Linked DNA regions of Homo sapiens. The protein of the gene in region 1 interacts with the protein of each later gene in a pairwise test. Each region holds a gene or a part of one and is shown in the gene's direction. Other genes may lie near its edges.

Region 1 (3,376 bases):
AGGAGAAGAGAAAAAAAAAAGAGGAAATAAAGAAGACAACTCTTTTCCTAAGAGTCTGGGTAAAATTGAACATAGCCATATTCACTGAACAACATGAGTGAGCTTCATTAATTTAAGCACAGCAAAACTGCTTTAATTAACAAGACCAGAGAGAAGGGAGAGGAGACTACATTTGTGTGACCTAATGGTTGTGATTTCACTGTCCAAGAGGACAAAGACAAAGAAATTCTGGGAAGGAGAACAACAATTATATTCCCCCATTTCAAGAAGGGCAGAAGTGTCCCAACACTACCCAATATTTGCAAAATTCAAATGTCTCATAGGCTCTTCTTCCCTGGTTCCCTCAGGAGCTGGGTTTCTGGGTTGCAGAAGTGCTTTTCATATTCTGTATCTGGTTGTGGTGGCAATGTCACCACCCTACACTGCTGTGACACCGAAACAACCAAGCCTAGAATCAGCTGGTGCCTCTTTTCATCTGCAGGGTAGATTTGGCTTCCATGGTTGTTCACTGCTCTGTGTTAGGAAGGCTCAGTGACAGGTGTACAGCCTTCAGTAATGCCTCAAAGGTTCTCCAAGCAGAGGTAAACATGTGGGTCCTGCTGGTGACATATTAGACTTCTTACTTTCCCCAAATAAAAAAGTGCCTGCTGGGCGCGGTGGCTCACGCCTGTAATTCCAGCACTTTGGGAGGCCGAGGCGGGCGGAACACAAGGTCAGGAGATCAAGACCATCCTGGCCAATATGGTAAAACCCCATCTCTACTAAAAATACAAAATTAGGAAGGCGTGGTGGTGCACGCCTGTAATCCCAGCTAGTCGGGAGGCTGAGGCAGGAGAATTGCTTGAACTGGGGAGGCGGAAGTTGCAGTGAGCCAAGATCGCAGCATTGCACTCCAGCCTGGGCAACAGAATGAGATTGTCTCAAAAAAAAAAAAAAGTGCCACATGCCATGCTATGTGCCCAAAGTTTCCTTCACACAACACAGCCTTGAGATGCAGTATTAAATTCTACACTTTTCCTACCATAGTGATACATGTGGCTTTTCTTTGCTGTGTTCTGAGATGTCATGCTTTGAAATCAGTGGCCATTATCATCTAAGGATTCCGCCAGAGACTTCCAAAAGAAGAGGTCTCATTTATAAAGTGAATTTGAATAAAATGACCAGTTAGGTGTTTTCAGAAACACCTATGCCCTACTTGCCTACTCTTCAAGGGTTTAGGGGCTTAGGGGGAGGTTTTGTTTGGGTTTTTTGTTGCTGTTGCTTGTTTATTTGTTTGTTGTGTTTAAGACGTTTTACTTGTCCCTGAAATGTTTGTCATCACACAGATACACGCTCAGGATAAGAACTACCAGACTAGATTAGGAGGTCCACACCACCAATTGAGATGTACCTGTGCTCATGACTTGACATTGTGGTGGGCCGGCTACAACCCTCCCCACCCCTCGCTTTCACTAAATAACAACTCTCTTCTCTCCATCATTTTGACTTAGAGCCAGTCAGAATTCAATCTCCAATATCCTGACTAGCACAAGAAATCCATAGGTTGATTCTTGTTCTCCTGCATCTCTGCAGGTGGCAAACCTGATTCCTAATGCCTGTTCCTGCCTCTGCAGGGGTTCATTCAGAAAACAGGAAAATAACAAAGGCTTCCTGTAATTCTCTTTGGCTGTAATACAATTTGTTCCCGTCTGCCCCCAGGCTCACCCAGTGCTCTGTCTCAGTGGTAAGCTGTAACTGATCACTGCTGTATTAACTCAAAACTCATTTGCTTTATGGAAATTCATGGCCCTTATTTCTCAAGGGACCAGAGAAAACCAATAGGCCTACTCCCCAGCTGAGTACTTTCCATGCAAGCTACCGCATCTGTATAAATTAGGTTCAAATAACAGAGTATTTCCAGGATTTATAAATTCAGTATTACAAATAGTAATCTGGCAAGTGTTCTCAGGATCCCCTTGCTACCTGTAATTCAATCATATAACTTCTGAATGGGCTGGGGGAAAATAACAATAAGAAAAACTGGTGTTTACCTGAAGATCTGCCCAGTGATTTGTGTGTTTTCTTAATAAACTTTACCCACTTATTAAAAGAATAAAATGAAGGTGGAGTTAATTCTGACTACGGGATTCCTTTTTCACTTTTATAATGAACTCCTTCCTTCTAACTAAATCTTATCATAAGCAAATCTATGCACCAAATTATTTAGTACAATTCCTAATAACAGCTGAAGGACCATTTATTTGAAGCAATGTTCACCATAGCAAAATTCCAGTGAAGTCTAAGAACTGGGACAGTCCGTTGAGGATCCTTGTGCCAGGATGTATGTTGCCCCATGAATGTGCACATGCATATTAAAATATGGGCACCTCTTTTAATTCTTTTTTTTCTCATAATAAGTTTGAAACTCACAGTAGGAAATTGAGAGATCAATTTGGTTACTGTTTTATCATTGATCCTGAAGACAGTTGAAGCAATCATACTGGTTGTTCTCGAACTAGCTGGTTTCCCAGAGACAGCTGGAGACTGAGCACATAAAGACATCATTGAGGAAAAAGGCTACCTTGTACCTCATGGAGAGCTGAAGGTCTGATAAATGGGAACTGCCAGGTAATAGCTATGCTATTTCTGACATAAATTTAAAAACTAGTATTGTTTCTTCTAGCTCTGTTTTTGCATAGTGCACAGAGATCTTTGTAAAAAACAGGAAATTAATGTTAAATTGGATCTATAAACATAAGTCAATTTGGCTCTATTATGTCAAAAGAGAATAGGAGTTTTAACTTATATCTGTGTTTTATTAATATTTTGAAGTATAGGAACCTCATGGTGTAGCAGGATGAGCCACAGACAAAACCTCTCAGACACCGAGTTGTAGAAGGAAGGGCTTTATTCAGCTGGGAGCATCGACCAGCTACTGTCTCAAAATCCAAGCTCCCTGAGTACACAATTTCTGTCCCTTTTAAGGGCTCACAACACTAGATTTCACATGAAAGGGTCGTGATTGATTTGAGCAAGCAAGGGGTATGTGACAGGGGCTGCATGCACCGGTGGTCTGGGAGGAACAGAACAGGACAGGGAGTTCTTCTATACAATAGAGAACAGAACAATGTTCTTCTATACAATGTAAGGAATCTATGAATAACATCGGCTTCTAAATCATAAGTTGATTTTTAACTACTGGGTTTAGGCCAGGCGGGCCCAGGCCTGGTTTCGGGCCTGGCGCTGAGCTGCCTGTATTTGGTTTTACTTCCTTGTTGTTTTTACTGAATATGAAACAATATAAAACAATGTGAGAGGGTCTTTCTCTCCTCTCAATGTCAACATCATATATGATTGGAGACTTCCACATAATTGAGTTTTAGTGCCCACTGTTACA
Region 2 (3,568 bases), on another chromosome or scaffold:
TATACTTACTTCTTAAACACGTAGAGCCTGCCTGCTGGGATTTTAAGGCTGAGCTGAACTTGCAGTTCATTCTGGGGTGCTGTCCTCTTTATATTGCATCCTATAATTTGTGGGTGTGGGCTTATCTATTTAGATGTTCTTTGTGATCTCTGTAGGGGTCTTCCATCTCATATATTACCACCTATTTCATATTTTTCCATGCCGTTGTAAATGGTATCTGTTAAAGTCTTAGTTTTTACTTGTTGCTGGTATATAGAAATGCGTTGATTTTTGTTTTTGTTTGTTTGTTTGTTTGTTTGTTTTTTAGACGGAGATCTCACTCTCTCACCCAGGCTGGAGAGCAGTGGCGCGATCTCAGCTCACTGCAACCTCCTCCTCCTGAGCTCAGGTGATTCTCCTACCTTAGCTTCCCGAGTAACTGGGATTACAGGCATGCACCACCACACCTGGCTAATTTTTGTATTTTTAGTAGAGATGGGGTTTCACCATGTTGGCCAGGCTGCTCTCGAACTCCTGACCTCAGGTGAGCCACTATGCCCAGCCTGATTTTTGGATAATGAATTTGTGACTAGTATCTGTGCTAAAGTTTTGCTAGTTGCAAAATTTTTTTTTTCTATAGAATCTCCTTGATTTTTCTGTGCACTTCATATTATTTTTCTTTCTCCAATTACCTTTTGTTTTTTTTCTCGTCTCACTGGACTGGCTAGGACCCTCCAGCTCATTGTCTTACCTCCGATCACACAGGGAGAACTCGGAATGTTTTGCCAGTGAGCATTATGTTTCCTGTTGTCTTTAATAAATACCCTTTATCTAGTTAAGGAAATTCTCTTCTTAGAAGACTTGTAAAAAAAAATCTTTTAATCATGAATTTTTTTAAAATAGCTTTATTGGCTGGGTGCAGTAGCTCACACCTGTAATCCCAGCACTTTGGGAGGCCGAGGCGGGCGGATCACGAGGCCAGGAGATCGAGACCATCCTGGCTAACATGGTGAAACCCCGTCTCTAAAGAAAAAATACAAAAAAATTAGCCGGGCATGGTGGCAGGCGCCTGTAGTCCCAGCTACTAGGGAGGCTGAAGCAGAAGAATGCCGTGAACCCAGGAGGCAGAGCTTGCAGTGAGCTGAGATCGCGCCACTGCACTCCAGCCTGGGCGACAGCAAGACTCTGTCTCCAAAAAAAAAAAAAAAGCTTTATTAAAATATAATGTATAGCTGGGTGCAGTAGCTCATGCCTGTAATCTCAGCACTTTGGGAGGCCAAGATGGGCGGATTGCTTGAACCCAGGCATTCGAGATCAGCCTGAGCAATATGGTGAAACCCTGTCTCCATAAAAAATATAAAAATTAGCCAGGGGTGGCGGCACATGGCTGTGGTCCCAGCTACTTGGGAGGCTGTGGCGAGAGGATCACTTGAGCCTGGGAGGTTGAGGATGCGGCGAGCCATGATTGCATCACTGCACTCTAGCCTGGCCGACAGAATGAGACCCTGTCTCAAAAGAAAAAAGATATTATTTTATGTACCATATAATTATGCCAGGTAGTTCACCATTTAAAATGTACACTTCAGTAGTTTTTAGTATATTTACAGGTTTGATGGTCATGCTAGTCAATTTTCAAACATTTTCATCATCCCCCAAATAAATCCTACACTCATTAGCATTTGCCCAGTCCTCTTCCTCCCCACTCCTAGGTGACTAGTAATCTACTTTTTGCTTCTATAGATTTGTCTATTCAGGATATTTTATATAAATAGAATCATACATCTGGTCTTTTGTGCCTGACTTCTTTCACTTAATGTAATGTTTTCTTTTTTCTTCTTCTTCTTTTTTTTTCTTTTTTTTGAAACAGAGTCTTGCCCTGTCGCCAGGCTGGAGTGCAGTGGCGCGATCTCGGCTCACCACAACCTGCGCCTCCCAGGTTCAAGGGATTCTCCTGCCTCAGCCTCCCGAGTAGCTGGGACTAGAGACACGCGCCACCATGCCCAGCTAATTAGCTAATTTTTGTATTTTTAGTGGAGACGGGGTTTCACCGTGTTGGCCAGGATGGTCTCCATCTCTTGACCTTGTGATCCACCTGCCTTGGCCTCCCAAAGTGCTGGGATTACAGGCATGAGCCACTGCTCCCGGCCTTTATTTCTTCTTTAAAAAAAAAAAAAAAAAAAGGATGCATATGCAGAACATGCAGATTTGTTACATAGGTATACGTGTGCCATGGTTTGCTGCACCTATTGACCCGTCCTTTAAGTTCCCTCCCCTCACTCCCACCCCTATTAGGCCCTGGTGTGTGTTGTTCCCCTCTCTGTGTGCATGTGTTCTCAGTGTTCAACTACCTGCCACTTATGAGTGAGAACATGCAATGTTTGGTTTTCTGTTCCTTTGTTAGTTTGCTGAGGATGATGGCTTCCAGCTTCATCCATGTCCCTGCAAAGGACAGGATCTCATTCCTTTTTATGGCTGCGTAGTATTCCATGGTGTATATGTATCACATTTTCTTTATCCAGTCCATCATTGATGGGCATTTGGGTTGGTTCCATGTCCTTGCTATTCTAAGCAGTGCTGCAGTAAACATACCTGTACGTGTGTCTTTATAGCAGAATGATTTATATTCCTTTGGGTATATATCCAGTAACAGGATTGCTGGGTCAAATGGTATTTCTGGTGTTAGATCCTTGAGGAATCGCCATGCTGTCTTCCACAATGGTTGAACTAATTTACACTCCCAGCAAAAGTGTAAAAGCCTTCCTATTTCTCCACAGCCTCGCTAGCATCTATTGTTTCCTGACTTTTTAGTAATCACCCTTCTGACTGGCGTGAGATGGTATCTCATTGTGGTTTTGATTTGCATTTCTCTGATGATCAGTGACGTAGAGCTTTTCTTCATGTTTATTGGCCTCATAAATGTCTTCTTTTGAGAGGTATCTGTTCACCTCCTTTGCCCACTTTTTGATGGGGTTGTTTTTCTCTTACAAATATGTTTAAGTTCCTTGTAAATGCTGGATATTAGCCCTTTGTCAGATGAGTAGATTGCAAAAATTTTCTCCCATTCTGTAGGTTGCCTCTTCACTCTGATGATAGTTTCTTTTGCTGAGCAGAAGCTCTTTAGTTTAATTAGATCCCATTTGTCAATTTTGGCTTTTGTTGCTATTGCTTTTGGCATTTTTGTCATGAAGTTGTTGGCCGTGACTGTGTCCTGAATGGTATTGCCTAGGTTTTCTTCTAGGATTTTTATGGTTTTGGGTTTTACATTTAAGTTTTTAATGCATCTTGAGTTAATTTTTGTATGAGGTGTAAGGAAGAGGTCCAGTTTCAGTTTTCTACATATGGCTAGCCAGTTTTCCCAGCACCATTTACTGAATAGAAGATCCTTTCCCCATCGCTTGTTTTTGTCAGGTTTGTCAAAGATCAGATGCTGGTAGATGTGTGGTGTTATTTCTGAGGTCCCTGTTCTTCTCCATTGGTCTGTAGGTCTGTTGTGGTACCAGTACCATGCTGTTTTGGTTACTGTAGCCTTGTAAGTGTAGTTTGAAGTCAGGTAGCGTGATGCCTCCAGCTTTGTTCTTTTTGCTTAGGA
Region 3 (3,568 bases), on another chromosome or scaffold:
TCCCACAGTGCCTGACTCACACCCAACTTGGGGAGACTTGGTTTCTAGGTGCAGAACCGCTAGGCAATGACCCCCCAGCAGTGTGTCCTTCCCAGCCTTACTCCTTGGAACAAGGCATGTGCTCGAAAGGCAGTTTGCAAACACTTAACAGTAAAATGCCAACATTTGTTCAGAACGGACTTCACAAACGCCGTGTGGTCGAGAAAGCACTCACTCACTTTGCTGGGTTCGGCAGAGATGCCTCTTATCCCAGATTTCTGGGAGGCTGGAAGGACCCTTCAGAGAAACTGCCTTTCCTCCCGAAACCGTGAAGGGCAGTCCTTTCCTCCAGAGAGGATGCTCTTGGTTGATTAAGCTGCAACTCAATTATAAATACTTTAGCCCCAACTTGGGAATAAAATGGATATTATGCACTTCAACTGACAAAGTTATTTATGTTTTTGCCTCATTGGTTGGCAAGACGTTCCAGTTGGGGTTAGAGCATTTGTTTCAATAGCTCCTGCGTGACAGGACTACTTCAGTCCCGCTTTGCTGCCATCAGACGCTGCTGGACTCGCACGGGGAGCGCAGAGCGTTTAATGCTGGGACATCAGACAGAACAGGGAACTGATGAAAGCTTCAGAATGAACATTGAGTCCACGCAAATCTGATGCTGCCAAACTTCAGAGAACCTGGGTCTCCTGGTCCACACGGAGATCAGACGAGGGGGACACTGAGTGCCTGGCAGCCCTTCCACTAGGCGGTCCCCCGGGATGAGGCGAGGCCCCACCCTCCAGCTCCACCATCCAGTCCAGCACCGTCCTTGGCCGCGGGCACTGCTGTCCTTGCCTGCGGACCGAGCGCCCAGCTCTTCAATACAGCACCTGGTCCTCGCTTTCAGGAGAGGATGCGTGGAGACAGGCGAGGTGGACGTGCCAATAAGTGACCCAAACAGTGCCAAGCTCGGCGGCAGATGGCGCAGCCGCCGGTTTCCAGGACAGTTGTAATCCTTGGCCCTCATTCGGCCTCTTCCCGTCACTCACATGGCGCGGCTTTCCTGGCCTCGGCGGTGTGGACGGGGGGCCTTGGCCATGGTTGCAGGACCCCAGCTCCAGCTCAGGTCAGCGTCTCATCCCAGGTGAGCTAATGAAGATCTGCAAAGCCACCAGAGTTGCTGAGGAGAGAAGAGGTGTTTGTGGCACTTCAGCGTGGGCGCAAAACAGAGGGAGCATTGCAGGACGTGCATCAGACGCTGGGCCCGGGGACCTGTGAGGCCACCATGTCAGCCTCTCTGAGACGGTGGCAGTCGAGGCCCGTGGCGGGGCTGGGGCTGGTCCACAATCAGCTTGACAAAGTAAGGTGGTGGCGGCCAGCCAGGCCCAGGGCCCCTGGGTGTCAGCAGGTGAGCAGGTCAGGCGGGCATGGCCCGGTGCTGCAACACCTCTCCAGCGCCTCGGTGCCTCCCCTCCCCAAGGGCTGGGGCGAACCAGGCTTGGCTTGGACCTGTGCTCAGCTGCACTGGGGCCTCTCGGGCAGCAGGCTGGACACCCAGCTCTCAGGAGGGGTGTGGGCTTGTCTGCAATGCAAGAACAGGAGCCAAAAGCCAACCTTCTTTTACACCAGATTCACCTGTGGTCATTCTTCTGACCTTGCCCAATGCGCTCAGGGATGACAGGTGGACAGTGAGCCACCCCCGAGGGCGGTGGCGCCTCCAGTGTCCCCTGTCAGACTTGGCTCCTCAGATGCTGGTTTATTCCTTGACACCGGATGGGGAAAATATTCTGAGATACTATGTCCAGCGTGCCCACAGGACCTCCCCTCACGGCTGGTGGGAACAATGCACCCTCCAATGGGCACCTGGGGAGGGTCTCTGGCCAGCAGCATCTCCAGATGGAAGTGGAGGGGAAGGGAGCCCCAGGGCCTGGAGGAGGAAATCCTCATGGCCAAGGGGGCGTGAGGGAAGGGGGCGGTCACTGCAGTCATCAGTGGGTAGGGATTCCTGATGCTCCATCCTTACTTAAAATTTTTCTCTTAATTAATATTAAATTATCCTGATTATGCTGGGTCTTGTTTTAATTTTTGCCTAGGAGTCTCCTTGGACTGATTTTTTTTTTCTTTTTGAGACAGAGTCTCGCTCTATTGCCCAGGCTGGAGTGCAGTGGCGCAATCTCAGCTCATATAACCTCCGCCTCCTGGGTTCAAGCGATTCTCCTGCCTCAGCCTCCTGAGTAGCTGGGATTACAGGTGCCTGCCACCACGCCTGGCTAATTTTTTTTTTTTTTTTTAGTAGAGACGGGGTTTCACTGTGTTGCCCAGGCTGGTCTCGAACTCCTGAACCCAGGCAATCCACCTGCCCCGGCCTCCCAAAGTGCTGGGATTACAGGCGTGAGCCACTGCGCCCGGCCTGAATTTTTTTTTTTTTTTTTTTTTACATTCACCCAGTGTGCCCCTGCTGAGCCTTGCTTAACGTTTCTGTCACTTTATGTGGGTTGCCATTCAGAAATACATGTAGTTGGATTTCATTTTTTATCTAATTGGAGCCTTAATGCATCTGTTTAATGTGCACTGTTTTGACCAACATATGTGATCTAACCTCTGTCATCTTTGTTGTTGCCTTTTTAAACGCTTTCTTGCTGTTTCATTTATTTTAACTTAATGTAGGGACCACATTTTCTCTTTAAAACCTCTGCAGTGCTTTGGAATGTGCGTGCTCTTTGAAAACATGATGTAAGCTCTACTTGCCAGAGTTGAAAATGATGCAGTGTATTTCCAGTCCTTGCCAACACACTTCCAGGACTTCTGCACACTTTATACTCTTCCGACTCCTCTCCCATCTTTTGGTCTTTGTAATTTTTGAGACAGGGTCTCGCTCTGTCGCCCAGGCTGGAGTGCAGTGGAGCGATCACAGCTCACTGCAGCCTCAACATCCCGGGCTCAAGTGAGCCTTCTACCTTAGCCTCCTGAATAACTGGGACTATAGGTGTGTACCACCACACTTGGCTAATTTTTTTTTTTTTAAGACAGGGTCCCACCATGTTTCCCAGGCTAGGAAGAGAATTCAAATAATAAGTATAAAGAAGTGATATGAGAAAATCACTGGGAAAATTGAGATACTGCATTGTTTTGAAATCATTCATCACTTCATTTATGAATATTTTTGGCCGGGCGCAGTGGCTTATGCCTGTAATCCCAGCACTTTGGGAGGCTGAGGCAGGTGGATCACGAGGTCAGGAGTTCAAGACCAGCCTGGCCAACATGGTGAAACCCTGTTCTCTACTAAAAACACAAAAGTTAGCCGGGTGTGGTGGTGGGCGCCTGTAATCCCAGCTACTCTGGAGACTGAGGCAGGAGAATTGCTTGAACCCGGGAGGCGGAAGTTGCAGTGAGCCGAGACTGCACCACTGCACTCCAGCCTGGGTGACAGAGTGAGACTCTGTCTCAAAAAAAAAAAAAAAAAAAAAAATTTCACGGAGAATGCCTTCAGATCCACTTGTAAATTTAAGAGACACTGCAAAGTTGCTAGTGCTGTTGATTTATTAGGACTAGTGAGTGCAGTCAGTGAGCTGAGGTCTCAGGCTGGTGAGAAAAA
Region 4 (3,568 bases), on another chromosome or scaffold:
CTCCAGAGAGCACATGTCAGAGAGCTGCCTAGATCTGGGGTGGGCCATTTGGGGAGTCCTCTGCACCTCGCCACACCCCGCCCTCTTCCTGCTTCTGTTTGACACCTCCACCCCGCCTTTTGGCAGATGACAGACTGGAGAGTAAACAGCAGATGCGTCTGGCAACGCATGCAATGGAGGAAAGAGGACGGAGCACAGGAGGTGGGACAGGGCAAGGCGCAGCTGGGGCACCAGACCAGAGGATGGCCAGGACGTGCCTGTGGCCAGCAGTGCCTGCAGTGTTTGGCAGAGGGAAGGGGACAAGGCAGAGGGGAGGGGAGGGCTCTGCGTGTTGGGCATGGGACTGGACGCCTCTGGCTCCTAAAGAGTCCCACCGGCTATGGAGGGGCGTGCCAGGTAGTGGCTTCCATACCGTTCAGGCAGGTGTAGGTAGGAACTGGACGGTGGCCAAGGGCAGGTCACCCTGCCTGGATCAGCTGTCACATCTGCAGAAAGGGGCAGGAACACCCACATTTGGCTGCTGGCCTCACAGGCAGCTTCTAGAGTCTGGCTGGCCCTTTGTCTATACCACAGGCCGTGTCTAGGGGACAGAACAAGGGGACCCAGGGCATGGCAATGTTCTGAGCAGAGAAGGTGCACAGGGAGCCGTGGGGACAGCGTAAGCCATTGGGCCTTAGGGCAGGGGCCTCGGTCAGCTCCTAAGGCTCCCCCAGGTGCAGTGTCCGTTGCGCCATTTTATTACAAGACGCAGAGCCGCTGGGCCAGCACTGCTAATATCTTTGAACACACCCGCCTCCCTGGTGTGGTTCCCCAGCAGCTGTCCCTGCAGCGGGAGGCCTTGGTCCAGAAGGGTTATGTGGGACATGGGCGCAGGAAGGACAGGTGAGGCTGACAGGCTTGGTCATTCCAGGGACCATGAGGGCTTTCGCTGGCTCAGGTGCCCCTTTCCCCTGCCGTTGCCCCTGTTGGTGCCTGCTAGACCTCCTGTGCACAGAAGGCCTTGGCAGAGGAGAGAGCCAGGCCTGGGGCAGTAAAGGAGAAAGCTTCCCCTCCAGTCCTCTGAGGGCCCCGGACTTAGATGGCTTTCAAATGAGTGTCTGTCTTCAGCAGCTCACCCTCCCAGCTTTTTCAGAAACCAAAGAGTAAATTGCTCACGGCTTCTCTAAGTGGCTCACACACAAAAAACCCGAGTCATTTCAATGGCTGGACCCAGAAAATCGAGCCCTCTTCTCTCCTCCCTGTCTCTGGCCCCCAACTCTGCCTCAGTTGCCCTGGGGTCTCACTGTCCCCTCAAGACACTGCCCCTGCAGGCGCAGGCAGAGAGGCCTTTGTTCCCCTCAGCTGTGTCCCCTCAGCTGTGTAGAGAGGATGCTGCCGTCGGACACGTGGTAACTGAGCCTGCTGCCACCCCCACCCGTGATGGTCAGTAGGTCGCGTGCCATCTGGGGCTACTAGAGCCGGCCCACTGTGCATACTACATGTGCCTGCTGGGTGCTCTGGGCTCTTCTCGCACTCCTGCACTGGCAACCGCTTATCTTTTTGAGCTGGGTCTTAAAGGTGGAGAGGTCTGACCAAGGGGCGGTCACTCACACTGGCATTCCAGTGAAGGGCATGGCCCATGCAGAGACCAGGGGTGATATACCCGTGTCCTCCTACCTGCAGACCGTGACGGTGCTGGGGAGGGGAGGGGGCACCAGGCCACATCGGGAGGGCAGCAGGTAGACGCTCCAGCCCCTCCACGGCAGAGGCCCTGAGCTTTGCAGGGGTGAGGAGGCTGTCATTCAGAAACGTCGCTGCCAGGGAGAAGGGACTTAGAGAAGGGAGCCTTGTGGCTGTGGCCCATGGCTGCCCTCACCACCAGGCTCCTGCCTTCAGGTGGCCAGGGGCCATCTGAACGCCCAGGGGACCTGGGTATGGGGTTGGTGTAGACCATGTCTTGGCCCTTCCCAAGGTGCCGGCTTCACCTCCATCCCTCTGTGCTCTGGTGCTGACCTGGCATTTGCAGTTATGTGCCCTAGTGGCAGCCGCTCGAGCTTGGCTGCCAAGACCCACGGTGTGGTCAGACCACTGTGTGCGGCTGAGGAATGAGTTCCTCCCAGGAGGGGAAAGCCCTCGGGTCAATCGGGGCCCTCGTGCCCACCCGTCACTGCAGGCCAGGATCGTGGCAGGTGGCAACCCCAGCTTTGAGTGCTGCGTCTTCTGGGGCTGCAGCCGCCCACTGTGAGCAGGAGGGTGAGGGCAGGTAGAGTCTGTCCTGCCATGAAGCTGGAGGCTTTGACAGCAGGGGCGGACAGAACTGAGCAGAAACACTTCACAGCCTGGCCACGAGCTCCCCGCTTTGTGCTCCCTCCCTCGCATTTCCCCGTGTTCTGCACCCCCAGAGCTGAGGAGCCAGGGCCCTTGTCCAGGAACAGGCTGGATCGAGGCCTGGTGCCTGCATGCATTCCCAGGTGGGAGCCAGGCAGGTGACCCGGACCCTCCACCAGCCCAGAAGCAGCCCTTCCACCGAGGGGCCTCACACCACTTCTGCCTGCTCCCTCAGTCATTAGGCCCAGCGCTGGCTAGGTGGCTCCAGACATGACCAGCAGGCTCTAAGGCTCATCAGCGTCTTCTGGAGCCTGCACGATACACACACAGGCACAGGCTACACCATGGGAGACCCCATCTGCAGGGTGCCAAGCCCTTGCATGCTTGGGCCTCTGACGGGATCTGTCCCCGCTGCTAACCAGGCACAGGGCAGCTTGCTCTGCAGGTCTTCCAGTCAGCTAGCACAGACCCTGGCCAGTGTCATGACTCTGTGGCCCTGGGCAAGTCACACACCCTCTCTGGGCCATGGGCAGAGGAGCTCATGATGGAGGCATGCCTTGGGCTTCAGGGGATGGTCCCTGAATGGGTGTGGGGCTGGGGCTGAAGGACCCGCCTGTGGGCTGGGGCGCTGAAAATGGGAGAGGAACTGAGCCATTTGTGTTTCCCAGATGGGGCCTGCTGCACTGTGCACAGCGTGTCCTTGCCCTCAGAGTCACCCTTGGGGCCAGAGTCCTTGTGGCTGTAACTCACAGGGTCATTGGCTGGGGCTAGGAGGGCAAGCTTCTCTGTTGGTGGACACATCACACTGTGGTTTTTTGTGTTCAGAAGAAACCTGCCACACTGGCCTGTCTCCATCCATTTGGTCACGGCCCCACAGGAGTGGGGAGCGGAGGTCCATGCGGCCCTATGCCTCCCCTGGACACAGGGTCAGCTAGGAAGGATATGGATAGCCTCTTCTGAGCAGTCAGGGCCTCGTGAGCCTGAGGCAGGAGACAGAAGCCTGCCCCGGCCGCCTCGGGCCCTTACTCCCTGGCCCTTGGTCATTATTGTTTCTAAAACGTTTGTCTCACCTGCTACCTGAAGAAGGTCCCGCCCTCTGGCCCTTGAGGCCCCGAGTGCCCAGGAGCTGCTGCCATCAGCATGGATGGGTGGTACCAGGCAGGCTGTGGGTGCAGGGTGCTTGGGGAGGGCCAGGTGTGCCTTGGGACGTGTGAAGTGGGAGCCTGGAGCAGGGAAACTGAGGCCTGCTCTCGCCCCTGCT

The links.
Region 2: the proteins of OPRM1 (region 1) and NELFA interact in a two-hybrid assay, tested with the Homo sapiens proteins (one large-scale study listed by BioGRID and IntAct).
Region 3: the proteins of OPRM1 (region 1) and CPLX1 interact in a two-hybrid assay, tested with the Homo sapiens proteins (one large-scale study listed by BioGRID and IntAct).
Region 4: the proteins of OPRM1 (region 1) and HS6ST1 interact in a two-hybrid assay, tested with the Homo sapiens proteins (one large-scale study listed by BioGRID and IntAct).

What each region holds. Positions count from the first base shown.
Region 1 is NC_000006.12:154,126,185-154,129,560, forward strand, and holds part of OPRM1 (mu-type opioid receptor), read left to right. Parts: 3' UTR 1-3,376. UniProt on the Homo sapiens protein: Receptor for endogenous opioids such as beta-endorphin and endomorphin. Receptor for natural and synthetic opioids including morphine, heroin, DAMGO, fentanyl, etorphine, buprenorphin and methadone.
Region 2 is NC_000004.12:2,002,429-2,005,996, reverse strand, and holds part of NELFA (negative elongation factor A), read left to right. Parts: intron 1-3,568. UniProt on the Homo sapiens protein: Essential component of the NELF complex, a complex that negatively regulates the elongation of transcription by RNA polymerase II.
Region 3 is NC_000004.12:816,088-819,655, reverse strand, and holds part of CPLX1 (complexin-1), read left to right. Parts: intron 1-3,568. UniProt on the Homo sapiens protein: Positively regulates a late step in exocytosis of various cytoplasmic vesicles, such as synaptic vesicles and other secretory vesicles.
Region 4 is NC_000002.12:128,270,335-128,273,902, reverse strand, and holds part of HS6ST1 (heparan-sulfate 6-O-sulfotransferase 1), read left to right. Parts: intron 1-3,568. UniProt on the Homo sapiens protein: 6-O-sulfation enzyme which catalyzes the transfer of sulfate from 3'-phosphoadenosine 5'-phosphosulfate (PAPS) to position 6 of the N-sulfoglucosamine residue (GlcNS) of heparan sulfate.